Linked DNA regions of Homo sapiens. The protein of the gene in region 5 interacts with the protein of the main gene of each other region in a pairwise test. Each region holds a gene or a part of one and is shown on either strand. Other genes may lie near its edges.

The links.
Region 1: the proteins of STAT5A (region 5) and UGT2B4 interact in a two-hybrid assay, tested with the Homo sapiens proteins (one large-scale study listed by BioGRID and IntAct).
Region 2: the proteins of STAT5A (region 5) and PRTFDC1 interact in a two-hybrid assay, tested with the Homo sapiens proteins (one large-scale study listed by BioGRID and IntAct).
Region 3: the proteins of STAT5A (region 5) and ZNF596 interact in a two-hybrid assay, tested with the Homo sapiens proteins (one large-scale study listed by BioGRID and IntAct).
Region 4: the proteins of STAT5A (region 5) and GLUD1 interact in a two-hybrid assay, tested with the Homo sapiens proteins (one large-scale study listed by BioGRID and IntAct).

What each region holds. Positions count from the first base shown.
Region 1 is NC_000004.12:69,489,406-69,492,924, forward strand, and holds part of UGT2B4 (UDP-glucuronosyltransferase 2B4 isoform 1 precursor), read right to left. Parts: intron 166-3,519; coding exon 34-165; intron 1-33.
Region 2 is NC_000010.11:24,939,106-24,942,624, forward strand, and holds part of PRTFDC1 (phosphoribosyltransferase domain-containing protein 1), read right to left. Parts: intron 3,332-3,519; coding exon 3,225-3,331; intron 1-3,224. UniProt on the Homo sapiens protein: Has low, barely detectable phosphoribosyltransferase activity (in vitro). Binds GMP, IMP and alpha-D-5-phosphoribosyl 1-pyrophosphate (PRPP). Is not expected to contribute to purine metabolism or GMP salvage.
Region 3 is NC_000008.11:231,259-235,264, reverse strand, and holds the start of ZNF596 (zinc finger protein 596), read right to left. Parts: upstream 2,810-4,006; 5' UTR 2,571-2,809; exon of another isoform or gene 1-2,570. UniProt on the Homo sapiens protein: May be involved in transcriptional regulation.
Region 4 is NC_000010.11:87,056,833-87,060,351, reverse strand, and holds part of GLUD1 (glutamate dehydrogenase 1, mitochondrial isoform a precursor), read left to right. Parts: intron 1-110; coding exon 111-191; intron 192-1,078; coding exon 1,079-1,202; intron 1,203-2,569; coding exon 2,570-2,661; intron 2,662-3,519. UniProt on the Homo sapiens protein: Mitochondrial glutamate dehydrogenase that catalyzes the conversion of L-glutamate into alpha-ketoglutarate. Plays a key role in glutamine anaplerosis by producing alpha-ketoglutarate, an important intermediate in the tricarboxylic acid cycle.
Region 5 is NC_000017.11:42,291,494-42,295,012, reverse strand, and holds part of STAT5A (signal transducer and activator of transcription 5A), read right to left. Parts: intron 3,042-3,519; coding exon 2,952-3,041; intron 1-2,951. UniProt on the Homo sapiens protein: Carries out a dual function: signal transduction and activation of transcription. Mediates cellular responses to the cytokine KITLG/SCF and other growth factors. Mediates cellular responses to ERBB4.

The DNA.
Region 1 (3,519 bases), on a different chromosome or scaffold from region 5:
AGTTTTTTACACCATTAAAACATTTTATCTTACCTTTTGTGGGATCTTGGCAAGGGCTGATGCAATTACATTGGCCCTTTCTTCTGACGTGTTACTGACCATCGACCCCAGAGAAAACACCACAACACCATTTTCTCCAGAGCTCTGGACAAACTCTTCCATTTCCTGTGAAAAAAAAGAATTTGTTCTATCATAATAGATTATCAGCACAGCAAGCACTGTGAAAGAATTGTTATAAAAAGAGAGAAAATCAAGTTTTATCAGGAATTATTGGAGTAAAGGATGTTTTTTAACTGACTCAATTACTCAGTTTTTTTTGCAATATGTATAATATGAGATAGGTTGCCTCTGTTAAGGGTCTTTGTGTAAATATGTGTGTGTGTATGTGTGTGCGTTTGTGAAAGGGAGAAATGAAATAGAGTTATTACACAGTATTTGAGGAGATACCCAAACTCTTCACTTATCATATTATAAGTACTAATATAGGTTCTTTAAAGTGGCACCAGTTGGCTTTAATGCTATATTGTTGCTCGCTAAATCACATATGCTTATTTTAGGCAGGTTTTCTACAGAATTATTTTAGTTTGAAGTCATTAGTGGTTGACTTCCCTGACTCTGAGCACTGAGGAAAAGTTACTCACAGCTGGGATTACGTAAACCTACATTTATCTTATTCTATAATCCTTTACACTTCACTTAAAGTTTGTCAGAGTTTTCCAGTCTTTTTTCAAAAGAGAAAAAAAAGTAGCTGTAAAAGGTGGTGGTTAAGAATCACTGACATTATGGAGTCTGCTGTTGTGGTTTGGAATTTCTATAAATTTCTATAAATAATTCTGTATTCTCATTTGTAATACAGAATCGTACAGTATGTAGTTACATAGTCGAATGATTATATTTTTCAGGTGATTGTTTAAGTGGAACAATTTTTCCCTGAAATCACACTGTTAAATTGATGTGCTATTTATAACTGCATGTGAGGAATTCTCATCATCATTTTGCTGTGTCTCAGAGGCAGCAGCACTTGCACCAGAATGCGAGAGACTGCCAGAACTTTCTGCAGAGATTTGGTCACCCTCTTGAGTAGATCACCCACACTACATAAAAATCTTAGTGAAGATGTACTTGGCTGGAATTTACTGGGAATCATTCTGACCTGTGTTCCCCAATGTACGCCAATTTTGAAATTTAAATACTTTCAGATTTAATCATTGGGGTAAAACTTTTTCTTAAGTGTTCTCTACAAAACAAAGAAAAAAGATTCCAAATGTTTATTTGCAGACCACATATGGCTAAGCATTTTTTAAAATATGATTTTTAATCTTAAGACATCAGTGTTAATGATGTTAGAGTCATTGTTCTGCTATTCAAGGTAATACATAGGATATCCAGGTATTGTGCGTAATTGCAGTTACCTGTAGCCACATTTGATGTAACTTACGTTCAGTGTTTTGTTTCAGTGGCTTGATGTCCAGAGCCGCCTTCATCCACCCAGTGTTAAAGTAATATAATCCCTAAAGGGGATTCATTATTGATGTGGACTGGTTGTTTCCCATTCTGTGACAACTTTAAAATAATAATACACTATGTATGTAAGGTATTTTATAGAAGTAGTGCAAGTTCTAAAAAGAAAATAATTTTTTTTCTAAAATTTTTGTCGAGAGATGTCACCTTGTAAACTACATATGTTTTCATCATGGCTTTTGTTCTATCTTTATAGTTCAATGTACACTTGTGACGTTTATTTAGACAATTTTATTCTGATTGTATATACCTTTTCCTCCTACAAAAAACGTGTCAGCCTGTAATATTTATAATTTTCTACCTCACTTTACTTGTATTATAGCTGACTGTAACTGAATATTTTATTGATAAAATTATTGTAATGCTATAGTATGCATCTAGTATATGTTTTTAATTATTCCTTAATTTCAGATGTTTGATTACTTTTGATGTTTATTTTATGAATATTTTCCATAAATATTAAATATGTACATCTTGATTTATTTTTTCTCTGTATGATTTCATGTGAATATATTATAAAACCAATGGCTATATGCATTTTTAATACTTAATACATTTGCCAAGTGTCCTTTTCTCTTAAAGTATGCATAAATTATCTGAGAATCTAATATTTAATTGAATAGAAAGCAAATTGGGTTTGCAGTTATTTTACATGATAAACAATTAGAGAATGGCTTTCACAACCATTGACTTGCATTCAAAGCTTTCTACAAGTTAGTAACAACAGCTAGTATTAGTAATTATCACATGTACTACGACTCAATCTTTTTCTTATCCTTCCACACCTCGTACTCTCTTCTCCCTCTTACTGGCACTGTCAGTTTCCCTTAATGTGAGTGGGGAAATCTTTCAAGAGTAGGATAGGGTGGGACAGAATTTTCATTAGTCTTATCTCAGCTTTTGTCTCTTTAGAAAGTTACCATATAAAGCCCATACAATTTGCATTCAACATAGATATTGGATTTTAACCATGGAATAAAATATCAGTTTCATGTTGCTGTTAATAAGGAGGTAGGCAAAAATTATCTCTTAAGAGATTACATAATGTAATAAAAATGCTTACTTTCTACCTATTTCTTAGAAGGGTGATATCAATTTAAAATATATTACATTCTTATATTCCTCCATAAAGAATATAATGTTATATGATGACAGAATTCTTTTATTATTGTAAACTGAGGGCACGATTCAGATACGAGTGGTAGAAATTATTTGGTCTTTATTATACATGCGTTGTTCATTTTTTCTGTGCTTCTCTCTCAGGCACTTATGATGTTGAGACACAAGCTATCCCAGGAAGCTTTACTGGGTTGCTTGTCTTAAGGCAGAAAACACCTGCTCTAATAGGGTATGTTTATGCTAAGATGTAAACCTCTGGGATCTCAACGCAGAATGATTTAAATGCTTTAGTAAAATCAAGTGAACACTGGGTCTGGCTGCAAATACTAATAGAATCACACATTTATATCGGTAAGGGATTATTTTCTTATAAGTTAGAATACTGATGAAGATCCTTGTCACTTGTGGTAGAATTTTACAATTTCATTTTGCTCATCTTACTGTCAAAACTGATATGTCTTATTTTAAACAAGTCTACAGGGTATCTGTCATATAGAAGACCATAGGACTTTGTTAGAGAATATAATCTTGAAATGCTGAATAATTAGTTTCTATTAAATGAGGAATAATATCTCAAGTGACTTACACATGTTAAGTAATTCATAGTATTAGTAATAACAAAAATAACCATAATTGCAAAATAATATTTCTGAATCACTAACTATATGCCAGAGACATTTTAAGTGGTTTATTTGTATTAACTTTTTTCCACACAACACAATATGAAGTTAGTCATATTACTGTAAAAGTAGGCATAGGTAATTCTATCCACTTTCTAGTCCATTTTTCCATCATCTGCTACCTGAATTCATACAAAATTTCCTCAATGGTCAGCTCTTTCTAGTTTGGCCCTTCCACAATTTAATCCATCGAACATCT
Region 2 (3,519 bases), on a different chromosome or scaffold from region 5:
GCCTGGCCAACACGGTGAAACCCAATCTCTACTAAAAATACAAAAATTAGCCGGGCTTGGTGGTCTGCGCCTGTAATCCCAGCTACTCAGGAAGCTGAGGCAGGAGAATCACTTGAACCCAGGAGGCGGAGGTTGCAGTAAGCCCAGACTGTGCTATTGCACTCCAGTCTGGGTGATAAGAGTGAAACTCTGACTCAAAAAAAAAAAAAAAAAAAGTAGAATTTCACAGAGTGGAAGACAAAAAAGGAAACAACAACAGCAATGAATAGAAAATAGTTATAAATACGATAGATACTAAACATTATATCAATACTCATTTTAAATATGAATGGTCTAAATATAGCAATTAAAAGACAGACTGTCAGGGTGGATTAAAAAAAGATCTAACTGTATATTGCCCACAAGAAGCTCACTTTATGGCTTACACCTATAATCCCAGCACTTTGGGAGGCCAAGGCAGGCAGATCCCTTCAGGTCAGGAGATCAAGACCATCCTGGCCAACATGGTGAAACCCCATCTCTACTAAAAATACAAAAAATTAGCCAGGTGTGGTGGTGCATGCTTATAATCCCAGCTACTTGGGAGGCTGAGGCAGGAGGTTCACTTGAACCCGGGAGTTGGAGGTTGCAGTGAGCCGAGATTGTGCCACTGCACTCCAGCCAGGGTGACAGAGTGAGACTCTATCTCAAAAAAAAAAAAAAAAAAAAAAGAAAAAGAAACTCACTTTAAATATAAATATAAAAACAGATAGATTAAATGGATGGAGTAAGACATGCCATGCTAACATTAATCAAAAGAAAGTTGGAGTAGCTATTTTAATTTCAGACAGAGCAGACTTCTGAGTGAGGAATATGCAGGGATAAAGAGCATCATTACACAATAATAAGGAGGTCGATTATCCAAAGAGACATAACAATTCCTAATATATATGCTCCTAAAAACAAAGTGTCAAAAACCTAATAGAACTGCAAGGAGAAACAGGCAAATGCACTATTTGGAGACTTTAACATCCCCTCTATCAGTAATTGACAGGTCCAACAGTCAGAGAATCAGTAAGCATATAGTTGAACTGAGAAGCACCATCAACTGACTGGATCTAATTAACACATATACAATACTTCACCCCACAACAGCAGGATACACATTCTTCTTAAAAGATACCAGTAAGAAAATAGTAAGACAAACCATAGGCTGGGAGTAAATATTTGCAAATCATATATCTGATAAAGGACTATTATCCAAAATATATAAAGAACTCTTATAGTTCAATAAGAAGATGAACAATTGAATTTAAAAATTGGCAAAAGACTTGAAAAGACCTCTCTCCAAAGAAGGCTTATGAATAGCTAACAAGTATACTAATGATTAGGAAAATACAAATTAAAACCACGGTGAGATACCATTAGACAGCCACAAGAATGGCTATAATCAAAAGGACAGACAATATTCAATGTTGGCAAGTATGTGGAAAAACTGAAACCTTCATATGCTGCTGGTGGCAATGTAACAAGGTGCAGCCACTTTGGAAAATAATTGGCAGTTTCTTACACTTACCAGAAAACCCAGAATTCCACAATGAGAAATCCATCCAAGAGAAATGAAAAGATATGTCCACACAAAACTTATATGTGAATGTTTATAGAAGCATTTCCACAATAGCCAAAAATGGGACATCCAAATGTACATCAACTGGTCAATCAATAATTAGCTATTGTACGATTTTCTTACGCAAAATGGCCAGAAAAGACAAATTTATAGAAAAAGATGCTGGAAGTGGGAGCAGGGATTGGCTGCAAACAAACTTTTGGGGATGATGGAAATGTAAAACTGGATGGTGCTGATGGTTGCCTGACCATAAAAATTTACTAAAAATCATTTAGTTGTTCACCTGCAATGGGTGAATTTTGTGCAGTAGTATATAAATTAATCTTGTGTGTGTGTGTGTGTGTGTGTGTTTGTGTGTTTGAGACAAGGTCTCGCTCTGTTCCCCAGGCTACAGTGCAGTGGTGTGATCATGGCTCACTGCAGCCTTGACCTCCCAGACTCAAGTGATCCTCTCGCCTTAGCCTCCCTAGTAGCTGGGACTACAGGCCTGTGCTACTATGCCTGACTAATGTTTTTTATTTTTTTGTAGAGACGGGTTCTCACTACATTGCCCAGGCTGGTCTCAAACTCCTGGCTCAAACAGTCCTCTTGCCTCAGCCTCCCAAAGTGCTGGGATTACAGGAACGAGCCACTGTACCCAGCCCTGTAAATTACATCTTAATTTTTTTTTTTTTTGAGACAAGATCTCAGTATTTGAGATTAGCCCAGGTTAGTCTCAAATTTTTGGGTTCAAGTGATCCCCACACTTCAGCCTCTGGAGTAGCCTGGATTACAGGTGCATGCCATAGCCCCTGGCTTATAAATTTATTTCAAAGGTGAAAACGGACATTCTTGGGCCCCACCCTAGAATATCGATTTGAAATTTCTAGACATAAAGCTTAAGAATATGCATTTTAACAAGTTTACTGGATGATTCTCTTGTACAAAGAAAAGGCTTAGGGTAACCCTACCCCCTACCCAGGAGTCAATCATGTTCTGACTGATTTTAAATTAATTTTAAATTAGAAAATTCAGGTAAGAAATGCAAGAATTTGTTTAAATTAGGAGCTTCCCAAACTGGTATTAAGGGAAATCTCTTCTGAGAGTTGTAAATAGGTAAACTGAGTACAAAGTCTCCCTTTGCACAAAAAAAGGTTGCTTTAATTGTTAAAGTCAAGCAGGTTTCTTTTCTGTGTTCTTCTTTTCTTTTGGCTGGAATTTCCATATTTTCAATATGCTAATGTTTGTTTTGATTTGTCAACTGAGAGACAAAAATATGGAAGACACAAAATTTCCAAAGTTTATTTGATCACGGAACGTCCCCCCTCTGTGAGGGTGGGACTTCTTTGCCACGGAAAAGCCATCTTAGGACATTGTTATTTTGAGGCTGTTACTTATAATAGCTTATGTATGTATATCCTTCTTACCATATTACCATACCGCCTGAACAAATGTCCAGGTAAACCATTCAATTTAAGCATACATTCATTTTATTCCAAATTCACTGCCCTATATAAAAGTTCTCTCTACCACTATAAAACGCAGCTCAGGAATAGGGTCCTAAAGTATATTGTGGGATTCACACAAGTGTGGGCCGGCCCAGTGCAGGACCAAGATTGACACAGGAAATCACACTCACCTGTCCACAATGATACCATGAGGGATGAGGACATACTCCAAGTCTCCATAATAGTGCTGTGGGTACGTGAATAAATTCAAGTCATACCCTGGCCAATCATCCATAATCTGCAAATCAAATTATTTTGGTTATGGTATTTTTTCATCAGAAATTTGTTTAAAACATAACAAAAGAGTATCACTTGAGAGGAGAATTCCCTCAACTTATGAAAAGTTTAGTGGAACAAGGTTATTTGTTTCCACAACCTGATACAAGGCGCAGTACTAAAGTGAACAGAGCACTCCATTCCCAACTA
Region 3 (4,006 bases), on a different chromosome or scaffold from region 5:
TTACAAATCTATGAACATCAAGGTCTCCTTGGAACAGATGTTCTGTGAACAATTTATAAAACTCCCTCCTGTTAGACACTTAGGTTGATTCCATTTTTAAATCAATTACTGAATAAAACACACTCCATCGTGTGGATGAAATGCTACCTTAATTTGTCAAAGCTATCATTTTCTAAACTTTTCTTTTTAATTCAAATCATTAATATTTTGTGGCCAGATCAATACTGATTCATTGTTTTAAGCTTCAAATGCATTATACAGTTGGGCAGAACACATTTCCTCTCATCAATCTTCTTTTCCAGGATTTGTCAGATATTCCTGACATTAATTCACTACTAATATGCACAGTTTCTCTAATCATGGTCAACAAAGATCTGACAGTGCATTGTCCCTAAACGACCCATACTTGCCTCACTGACACCATGTGGCCCACTTCCCATCTATAATCTATGTCTGGGTGTGAAGCCCTTCCCATATGATCCCCCGAATGGAACTTCACAAGTTCGAATTCACTGGGTCACAGTGTGATAGCGTGAAGATGGGAGGACGTTAAGGGAAGGCTATGGGTGAGTTGGGAAATGTGTTAGGCAGGGTCAGAGATTACCACATCCTAAAAACAACACTTAAGGCGGGAGATGACAAAACAATCAATGAATAACATGACTTTTTCCAGTGAAAGTGCCATATCTAATCCTTTTCCATTTTTGTTCTCTGAGCTTCTTTCTTAGGGAAGATCCTTCTTGAGAAGCCCCTGCTGAGTATTAGGAAAATGCATTTCAGGACCTCTCATCAACACACCCTCTTTCTTTACCACAACCACATATATGGGGGCATAACTCAACATGTGTAAAAGACAATCTTCTGCTTTTCACTGAACCTCCAGGAATTCAGGACAATAAACCTCTACATGCAGACCAACAGGTGAGTTTTTCTGCCCCTTCTTTCATAACACCGTTCTTCCCTAGTGAAGTCCACACACATCCTTACATGGCAGCTGTGGGTATATCAACTGGTCTGACCCCTTTTAGTCACAGAGCCTGAAGTCTGCTAGTACCTGCTGAGCACAGTGTCATGGGTGAGAATGGGCAAGGCTTTTTCTTTCTCTGGTTCCTGAACTTCCCAGGCTCTCTCACTTCTGGATCCTGAATACCCAAATCCCAAGCTTCCTTCCCAGAACCAACACCTCCTCCTCATTAGAAAGATACCTTTGTTGTGTGCTTACTTTATAAAGTCTTGCTCTTTCCCTGTCCACTGCCTTGTGTCACTATGTGTGTGTCTTGGGGCCGGTGGAAAGGTGAACAGAAGCCAGTAGAGAGTAACAAGCACCAGCTTCACAGGAATGGCATGACCTTAATACGATAGTGGCAGTTTTCCCTTAACATCCCTGCCCCCTAAAGATTTCAGATCATATGTCACACTCTTAAGTAACAGCGATTTGTCTTTCACGGTTTTAATCATATTGATTAAAAGCATTTGTCTTCTCCAGAACATCACATTAAGTCATCAAAAAATATAAACCTTAAAAAGATGTAATTATTGGAACTGAAAAACATAAAAGGTGAGCTTTGGAAATATCTTTGAGCAGTCTATTCATTATGAACACATGTAATCTGTTGGAACAAAGTTCTAGGACAATCCAGGTCATCCTTCAATATTTGCAGAAAACAGCACAAAGAAAACTTGATACTTAAACTTAGTTGGAAACTTTATGCCACAGCCATTAAATACAGAGATCATATAAAGGAATAGAGGAAGCTGTTGAATACTAAACTAACTCAAATCATCATTATCCTTACGAAGTGCACACTGAATTAATGTAAAAAGCATTTAGTAAACAAAAAGTATTTTCAATATACAATTAAGACTGAAAAGTATTGAGGCCTCATAAGCTGAACCTGACACAATAAATTTAAAAGGGAAACTAATTTGGAAATCAGAAAACCATCTAAAGAATTTGGGAATTAGGCTTCTGCTGCCCTCTCTGCTACTGACGGTCAAGGCCTCCTCATTGTATTCTGTCCTCCATATCTCTGCTGATTCCCATTTTGTCTATTTCCATTTACCCCACTACTACTTGCTCAGGTCACTCTCCTTCATTGTCGGTGTTTGTTCAAATTCCTCAGACCCATCCACTTCCCATCTAAACTTCCCTCCCCTTTTCTCGCTCGTTGGCTCTACCTCCCTCCTCTGTTTTCTCCTCACTCTCCTGCCCCACCTCGACATCCACAGCGAGGCAATGAAGAAGCCCCTGCCAAGGAAGAGCCCGCTTCTCAGTGGGACACCGGGAAGGTAAACACCCAACAGTCACCGCTAGTGGGAGGCGATTGTGCAGAAGCACGAGGGTTGTTACAGGATCGGGCAGGTCCCCTACCCCAGTCTCGGACTCAGGGTCCTGTCTGAGGCGGCCACCCCGAAGCGTGGGGTTTGCGGAGACGTAGGGCCTGGCGGAGGGAAGGATGGGGAAGCATCTCAGGGAGGACTGGCGTCTGCCGAATCCCAGGGCTGCCCTGAGGGGCCAAGAGGGGCGAGGGTGGGGACGATGGAAGACAAGCCACATGCCGAATCGGGACCTGAGGCCGCGCGCGATAGGATGGGCGGACGGTGAAGAGAACTAGGGTGGAAGGGCCGGACAGGGGCGACCTCAGTGACGGAACCGGACACAGACGCAGATCTGGCAGCTGGGCGACAGGCTTCGGAGCATTTCCGGGCGTCGCGGGACTCCCCGCCGACAGGAGGGCGGTTGCCGAGCCTGTGACATCCGCGGAGACCAGCAGACCCCGGGTGTGGAGGACGCCGCAGGAAGGGAACTGCGTGGCTGGGTTTGGCCACAAAAAGCGGAGGGCACTCACCCGAGCGGACCTCGGCTCCGGAGAATCCGTTTCCGGGTCAACAAAAAACGTCGCGCGAGGGGCGGGGCCCGTACGTGCAGGGAGGGGAGGCAGAGAAAAAGGCGGGGCCGGGCCGGGGCGGGGTCTCGGGCAGGGGCGGGGAGCTTACCGACCTCCCGCCCCCGCTGCGCGCGTTTCTGGCCCTGCCAGTGTCTCCGCCGGTTGAAAGCGCGTGTCTGCGTCGGGTTCTGTTGGAGTGCGTTCGGTGTGCCGTGGGTCCGCGCTGCTTCCACCCAACTTCCTGTTAGGTAAGAGGCGCGTGAGGCTCCTGTGCCGGGGGCGGTGCTGCTCCCGAGTCGGCGCGCGGCGGGGACGCGAGTCCGTAGGTGCTGGCGGGAGCGAGAGTCGGGTGGGGACCCTCGCGAGCCCGCACTCCGCCTCTGGGTAGCAGCCTCTTCGGCCCCACACGGCGTGACGCGCGCTCGGGCTCCGCGTTCGCGTCGAGGCAGAGGCGTAGTAGGGGTCGGGCCCAGGGCTGGAGGGGCCGGGACCGGGCGGGGTGCCGCCCTGGACACCGCGCCGGCAGCTGTTCCGCGCGGGTTCATGTCATTCCTATTTTCAACCTGTCCTGCTCCGCACCTGAGATGATTTATAAATTCGGTACCTTTGGGACAGGCGTGGATGACATCCCATAATTTACTTCGTTATTAATTTCTAAATGTAATACATACCACTATCTAAAAGTATTTTTTAATTTGAAATATATTTGTATACGTATACATGTATATTTATTTATTTCTGAATTTTATCTCGTACATATAATGAGGCTCGTAAAGTGGATACTGTTCAGGACATAGGTGGATTTTGCTTTTAAGTAGTAAAGACTTAATTGGTGACTTACTGGGGCTATTTGATAAGGATTTTTTTTTAATGAACATTAAAAACAGTGAAATTGTATTTCCGGATTTCGTTAGCTTCATTTATATCTTAATTGGTGAAAACTGTAAGTTAATAACTCATTTTTATTTCCTTTGGAGATTCTTAAGTTTGTGCTACCAATGATTATTTCCAAAAAAGGCACACTTCTGGTTTTCCCAGAACTAATGCTAGCTTCTCAATCTTTTGAGTTTACTTGATATTAATGTTTGACCTCAAATCATGTCACATTTTTGAAGAAA
Region 4 (3,519 bases), on a different chromosome or scaffold from region 5:
ACTGTGCTTCTCCCCACAGCCCCTTGTTCATATATGCACATCTCTTGCCCTCAGTGGAGGGGATTTGACGGTGGTGTTCGCATTTCTCTATGTTCCTGACTCTCTTGCAGATCATTGCTGAAGGTGCCAATGGGCCAACAACTCCAGAAGCTGACAAGATCTTCCTGGAGAGAAACATTATGGTTATTCCAGTAAGTCATCTATATTTATTAGGCTTTATATGTACTTAGAATCATAATAGTCTTTTGCAAGGAATTTGGAGGAAGAGAGGAATTATTAGTCTCCAAGCTCTAGTGAATTCATCTTTTTCACTTTTGAGAAAATATAGTAGAAGCATGGTTAATTCTAAGCCTGTTAATTTTCACTTTGATCGAAACATTTATTCCAATTTCAGGCTCTTTACTGAATGTCTTTAGCCTTCTAAGAGTCTGGTTATATAAATGTGTACTGTGTTAGAAACACTATTCTAACTAAAGCTCTTAAGATTTTCTATATGATTCCTAACCTTATGCATTTCAAGTGCCCTTTCCAGCTTTACTCAGAAAACTAATATGAGGAACACGTGCTCAGGTTTTTTAGCAAGTAAAAATGAGTCTACACCAAAAAGTTACTAGAAATTAATGTGGGCTTGGAATATATTTTAAAGAACCCCCTTTGCTGAAAGCACTTAAGACATTTAATGTAACTGAAATGGGCTACCCTTAGGTAATAGGAGAAAGAATCCTGTCTTCTGAGAGGCCCTGTGGACAGTCCAGTCCAACTGGTTGGTGGGCAAGCCATTTAGTCTGAGAACTAACTTCTGGTAGAGAAGAGGCTCCAACCAAAGATTATTAACTTTCCTTGATTAATAAGCCAAAAAATGATTTTTTTTTTTTCCTAAATAGAAAAAGCCTTAGATGGAATTGGGTGGGATGGGAAGGAGTGTTAATTAAGTGTGAAATTCCTGATACTGGCTAAAATATATTTGCGATATTTAAAGTCCAGTCTACCTTGGTATTGAAATTAAGGTCTTAGGTTCATTTTCAGCTTTTACGAAAACCATCATCTTCTAATTTCTTTGTCTTATTTTTGTGCATAGGATCTCTACTTGAATGCTGGAGGAGTGACAGTATCTTACTTTGAGTGGCTGAAGAATCTAAATCATGTCAGCTATGGCCGTTTGACCTTCAAATATGAAAGGGATTCTAACTACCACTTGCTCAGTGAGTATCGATAATCTTGTTCGCCAAAACTCATCTTTTGAGCCAGCTGAAAGGCTGTAAAAAGGTCCACTTAAGAGAACTGATCCCTTTGGGAAAGAATTGAGTCTCAGAAAAGAAAATAATATTTTGTCTCATGAAACTTAGACCAAAAATGCACAATGTCTTTCTGGATATTAACTCTCCCATATATTATATCCAGAGTTTTATTCTGTGATGTAATATTCACAGAATATAATCTACATTTTTTTTTTCTTTTTTTGAGAGGGAGTCTCGCTCCGTCGCCGAGGCTGGAGTGCAGTGGCACGAACTCGGCTTACTGTAGCCTCCGCCTCCCAGGTTCAAGCAATTCTCCTGCCTCACCCTCCCAAGTAGCTGGGGCTACAGGCACTCACCGCCACGCCCGGCTAATTTTTGTATTTTTAATAGAGACGGGGTTTCACCATGTTGGCCAGGATAGCCTTGATCTCCTGACCTCATGATCCGCCTGCCTCAGCCTCCCAAAGTGCTGGGATTACAGGCGTGAGCCACTGTGCCCAGCCAATAATATTTTTTTAAGTGTGATTTTAAAACTCCACTGTCGATACTAATTTCTGTCTCTGGTTGCTCTTAGTAAAGGCCTATCTAGTGTCAAGAATTGTTTTTGAGACTCCTGATGAGAATACTTGTTTTTCTTTGACTAGAGTAAGCTCCACAGTTAAGAGTAGAATTTCTCATCTAGTTGAAATAAGACCAAGACCTCCTACTGAGCTTCTGTACTCAGCCCACTGTGAGAATCTGGGTGAAGTGTTCCATCTATTTCCTTTTCTTTTTCCCCCAGCGTTTTCTTTTTAATAGAGCCAAGGAAAAACCCTGGTAATGGGTGTTATGGAAACAGAGCAGTGACCTAAATTCACATTTATATAGGAAATTGGCAATGTGTTTTATTCCTTCCTGACTGAGTTTTAAATGATTAACCCTTTTATGTCATTAAAACTCTGTATAAGGCCAGGCGCAGTGGCTCACGCCTGTAATCCCAGCACTTTGGGAGGCCAAGGCAGATGAATCACGAGGTCAGGAGGTCGAGACCATCCTGGCTAACACGGTGAAACCCCGTCTCTACTAAAAATACAAAAAATTAGCTGGGCGTGGTGGCGCGCACCTGTAGTCCCAGCTACTCGCAAGGCTGAGGCAGGAGAATGGCGTGAACCCGGGAGGCAGAGTTTGCAGTGAGCTGAGATCACGCCTCTACACTCCAGCCTGGGTGACAGACCACGACTCTGTCTGTATAAGTTTTTGGGTTACAGTTATAGTTTGGGACTACTTTTGATTCTACTTTTTTTTTTTTTTTTCTGTTAGCAATATCTTGATCTCTTGTTATTTTTTTGTAGTGTCTGTTCAAGAGAGTTTAGAAAGAAAATTTGGAAAGCATGGTGGAACTATTCCCATTGTACCCACGGCAGAGTTCCAAGACAGGATATCGGTGAGTGTGGTGACCCCACAGTTGTACTTCACACATGCTCCCTGCTCTTTCCTTCAGACAGAGCTGGTTAGATGGATTTCATCTGCGGCATAGTCTTTGTAATTAGCTTGACAGTAAGTGCGTGACATGTGTGTTTTGTACCTTTCCTTTTCATTACATTCTAAAACTGGAGTAAGAATCCTACTGACTACTAACAAATATAAAATAAATAAATTTGGTATTTTTCACGCACGTGTTTTAACAGTGAAGGATTATTATGTATTTTAATTATTTTAAGCTTCAGAGAAATAGGAAGAATTGAAAAGCAAGCATTAGATTGAACTATATGGGAGTCCAAGAGTTTGAGACCAACCTGGGGAACATAGTGAGTCCCCATCTCTACAAAAATAAAGAAAGAAACAAGAGGCCAGGCATGGTGGCACACGCCTGTAATCCCAGCACTTTGGGAGGTCAAGGCGGGTGGATCACGAAGTCAAGTCATCGACACCATCCTGGCCAACATGGTGACCCCGTCTCTACTAAAAATACAAAAATTAGCCAGGCGTGGTGCTACACGCCTATAGTCCCAGCTACTTGGGAGGCTAAGGCAGGAGAATCACTTGAACCCGGGAGGTGGAGGTTGCAGTTAGCCGAGATTGCACCACTGCACTCTAGCCTGAGCAACAGAGAGATACTCCGTTCCCGCCGCCGCCACCCCCCTCCCCCCGCCAAAAAAAAGAAAGGAGGGATGGAGGGAGGGAAACTTCTTTACCAGTAAATGATGGAAGACAGGAAAAACAAAAGTCCATAACACATAAGCCTGGGGGAAAAATTTAACCTCATTGTTAAAGAAATACAAATTGAAAAAGAGTTTTTTTT
Region 5 (3,519 bases):
TTCAGGAGAATCGCTTGAACCCAGGAGGGGGATGTTGCAGTGAGCCGAGATTGCGCCACTGCACTCTAGCCTTGGCAACACAGCGAGACTCCGTTTCAAAAAAAAAAAAAATAGAGAGAGAGGGGTAGAAACCAGGTCACAAAGGGAGGGAGCACATGGATGAAGAGGAACAAGTCCTCAGAGGCTTTCCAATGAACTGTTCTCAGAATAAAATCCAAACCCCTTCCCATGGTGTCTGCTGGCCATAGCCCTGCCTACCTCCAACCCCAGCTCGCTGGGAATGTGTGCTTTCTGTTTCTGTTCCTTGAACACACAGGCATGTTCCTGCCCTGGGGCCCTTGCACTTATTGTTCCAACAGTCTGGAACATTCTGGCATCAGATCCTCCTGAGGCAAAGCACTTTAACTGGTACCATTGCAGAGGGGTCATCTCTGACGAGCCAATTCACAGTAGTCCTATCTAAAAGTGTGTTGTTCTTGTATTTGCTTACATGTTTCTGTCTGTCTCCCTGCACAAGGATGTGAGGTTCCCAAGGGCTAGGACCTTGCCTTTCCTGTGAACTACAGAATCCCCAAGCCCTAGAATGCCAGGGGTGTTCAGGAACAGTTGTATGGTTGGAGGAAGGAATGAGCTCCCAGACCATGACAGCACCAGCACCATGGACATGGATTTGTCAATGAGGCTGAAGTCATTTTTAGGTTTGCAGATAGCTCTGTGATGGCAACAAGTCAGGGACACAGGGGCTGTGCTGGAAGACCCTTTGTGACCTGGTTTCTAACCCCTATTTTTTTTTTTTTTATACAGAGTCTCGCTCTGTTGCCCAGGCTGGAGTGAAGTGGTGCAATCTCAGCTCACTGCAACATCCCCCTCCTGGGTTCAAGCAATTCTCCTGCCTCAGCCGCCCGAGTAGCTAGGATTACAGGCGCCCGCCACCACGCCTAGCTAATTTTTGTATTTTTTAGTAGAGACTGGGTTTCACCATGTTGGCCAGGCTGGTCTCGAACTTCTGACGTCAGGTGATCCGCCCACCTTGGCCTCCCAAAGTGCTGGGATTACAGATGTGAGCCACCACGCCTGGCCCTCTCTATCTATTTTTATCCATGGCAACTCCCCACTTGGTTCCTTCTCCCCAGTTACACTGACCACTTACAAGTCTTCCAATGTGATAAGAAGATTCATGCCCTCCTGCTCTCGCAGCTGCTGTCTTTTCATTAGAAAATTCATCCCTCCTCTCCTGCCTTTCTCCACTGTAGCTCAGACATGCCTGTCCACAGGACGCTCCCCTGCCAGCCTGCCCCAATCTGAGTTGGGTGCTTTTTCCACCTAGGCCCCCTTAGCACTCAGCTCATCTCTAGAGAATCCATCACTGCCAGAATTCCTTCCAGGCAAGAACCAGGCCTTTATGTGTTTCTCTGATGATAGCCCAGCATCGGACACACAGTAAGACCTCAATAAATGTCTACTGAGTAAATCCTGAAATCCATGTCCACAACAATAAATACGTAATAGGCCGGGCGTGGTGGCTCATGCCTGTAATCCCAGCACTTCGGGAGGCCGAGGCAGGTGGATCACTTGAAGTCAGGAATTCGAGACCAGCCTGGCCAACAGGGTGAAACCCTGTCTCTACTAAAAATACAAAAATTAGCCGGGCATGGTGGTGGGCCCCTGTAATCCTAGCTACTTGGGAGGCTGAGGCATGAGAATCTCTTGAACCCAAGGGGTGGAGGTTGCAGTGAGCCGAGATCACGCCACTGCACTCCAGCCTAGATGATAGAGTGAGACTCAGTCTCAAAAATAAATAAACAAACAAACAAATAAAGAAAGAAATAATAAATATGACCTGTGCTCCGGTCACTGTTCTAAGATTTCTGTCACGTCATGTTGTGAAATTCATTTTGCTCTATTGCAGATAGTACAGCACTGTGCCATTGTCCATGTAGATGCCCAGTGCCTTTATTATTTCAGAACTGGGGAGATGTGTCCCTGTTACCCCTCCCTGGGCCTCACTTCTCTGAGCCTGCCTGTGTTAGTTCTTCTGACACAGATAGGTATGATTGCTATCTCCATTTTACAAGAGTAGGAACAGGCCGGGCACGGTGGCTCACGCCTGTAATCCCAACACTTTGGGAGGCCGAGGCGGGTGGATCATGAGGTCAGGAGTTCAAGACCAGCCTGGCCAACATAGTGAAACCACGTCTCTACTAAAAATACAAAAAAAATTAGCCGGGCATGGTGGTGGGCACCTGTAATCCCAGCTACTCGGGAGGCTGAGGCAAGAGAATTGCTTGAACCTGGGAGGCAGAGGTTGCAGTGAGCAGAGATCACATCACTGCACTCCAGCCTGGGCAACAGAGCAAGACTGCATCTCGGGGGGGAAAAAACAGTAGGCGCCAAGCGTGGTGGCTCACGCCTGTAACCCCAGTACTTTGGGAGGCCGAGGTGGGCGGATCACGAGGTCAGGTTGAGACCATCCTGGCTAACACAGTGAAACCCCATCTCTGCTAAAAATACAAAAAATTAACCGGGCATGGTGGTGGGCGCCTGTAGCCCCAGCTACTCGGGAGGCTGAGGCAGGAGAATGGTGTGAACCTGGAAGGCAGAGCTTGCAGTGAGCCGAGATCACGCCACTGCACTGCAGCCTGGGTGACAGAGCAAGAATCCGTCTCAAAAAAAAGAAAAAAGAAAAAAGAAAAAAAAACAGGAACAGAGGCTCAGAGAGATTAAGCAACTTGCTCAAGTCACACAGCTAGTAAGTGGTAGAGCCAGGGACTGGATCCAGGGGGTCACTCCACCCCGGCGTGCAATGCTGCCACCTCTTACACTTGCCCACGTCCCTCATCTTCTTGGTGCTCTCCTCGTGCTGCTGTTTTATATAAACACAGTTGTTTCTGGAGAGAAAGGCATATGGAGGGACTTCTCAACACTCCTCCCCATCCCCAAGGGACACTCACATTGTTGGCTTCTCGGACCAGCCTCTGTTCATTGTACAGAATGTGCCGGATGCAGCGGACCAGCTCCAGGGGGCAGCGGTCATATGTTTTCTGAAAGAATCCAACAGTAGCCTCCAGCGCCATCCTCTGCTCCAGCCATGCCAGCCCCATGCTATGCCCAGCCCTTCCTCTCCTTCAGCCTCTGCCTCAGCTTTTCCCAGGGAGCCTCAGGAACTATCCCCAGACACCTCTATATCTCTGTTCCTCATCCTCATCTTCCCCTCCAAGATCTTCATATCTGGTTTGGAGCGAATTAAAAACCCACAGTTTATGAGGCACTTTCTCTTTTTTTTTTTTTTCTTTTTGAGATGGAGTTTTGCTCTTGTTGCCTAGGCTAAAGGTGCAATGGTGTGATCTCAGCTCACTGCAACCTCCACCTCCCGGGTTCAAGCGATTCTCCTTCCTCAGCCTCCTGAGTAGTTGGGATTACAGGCATGTGCCATCACGCTCGGCTAATTTTGTATTTTTAGTAGAGGCGGGGTTTCTCCACGTTGGTCAGGCTGGTCTCGAACTCCCGACCTCAGGTGAT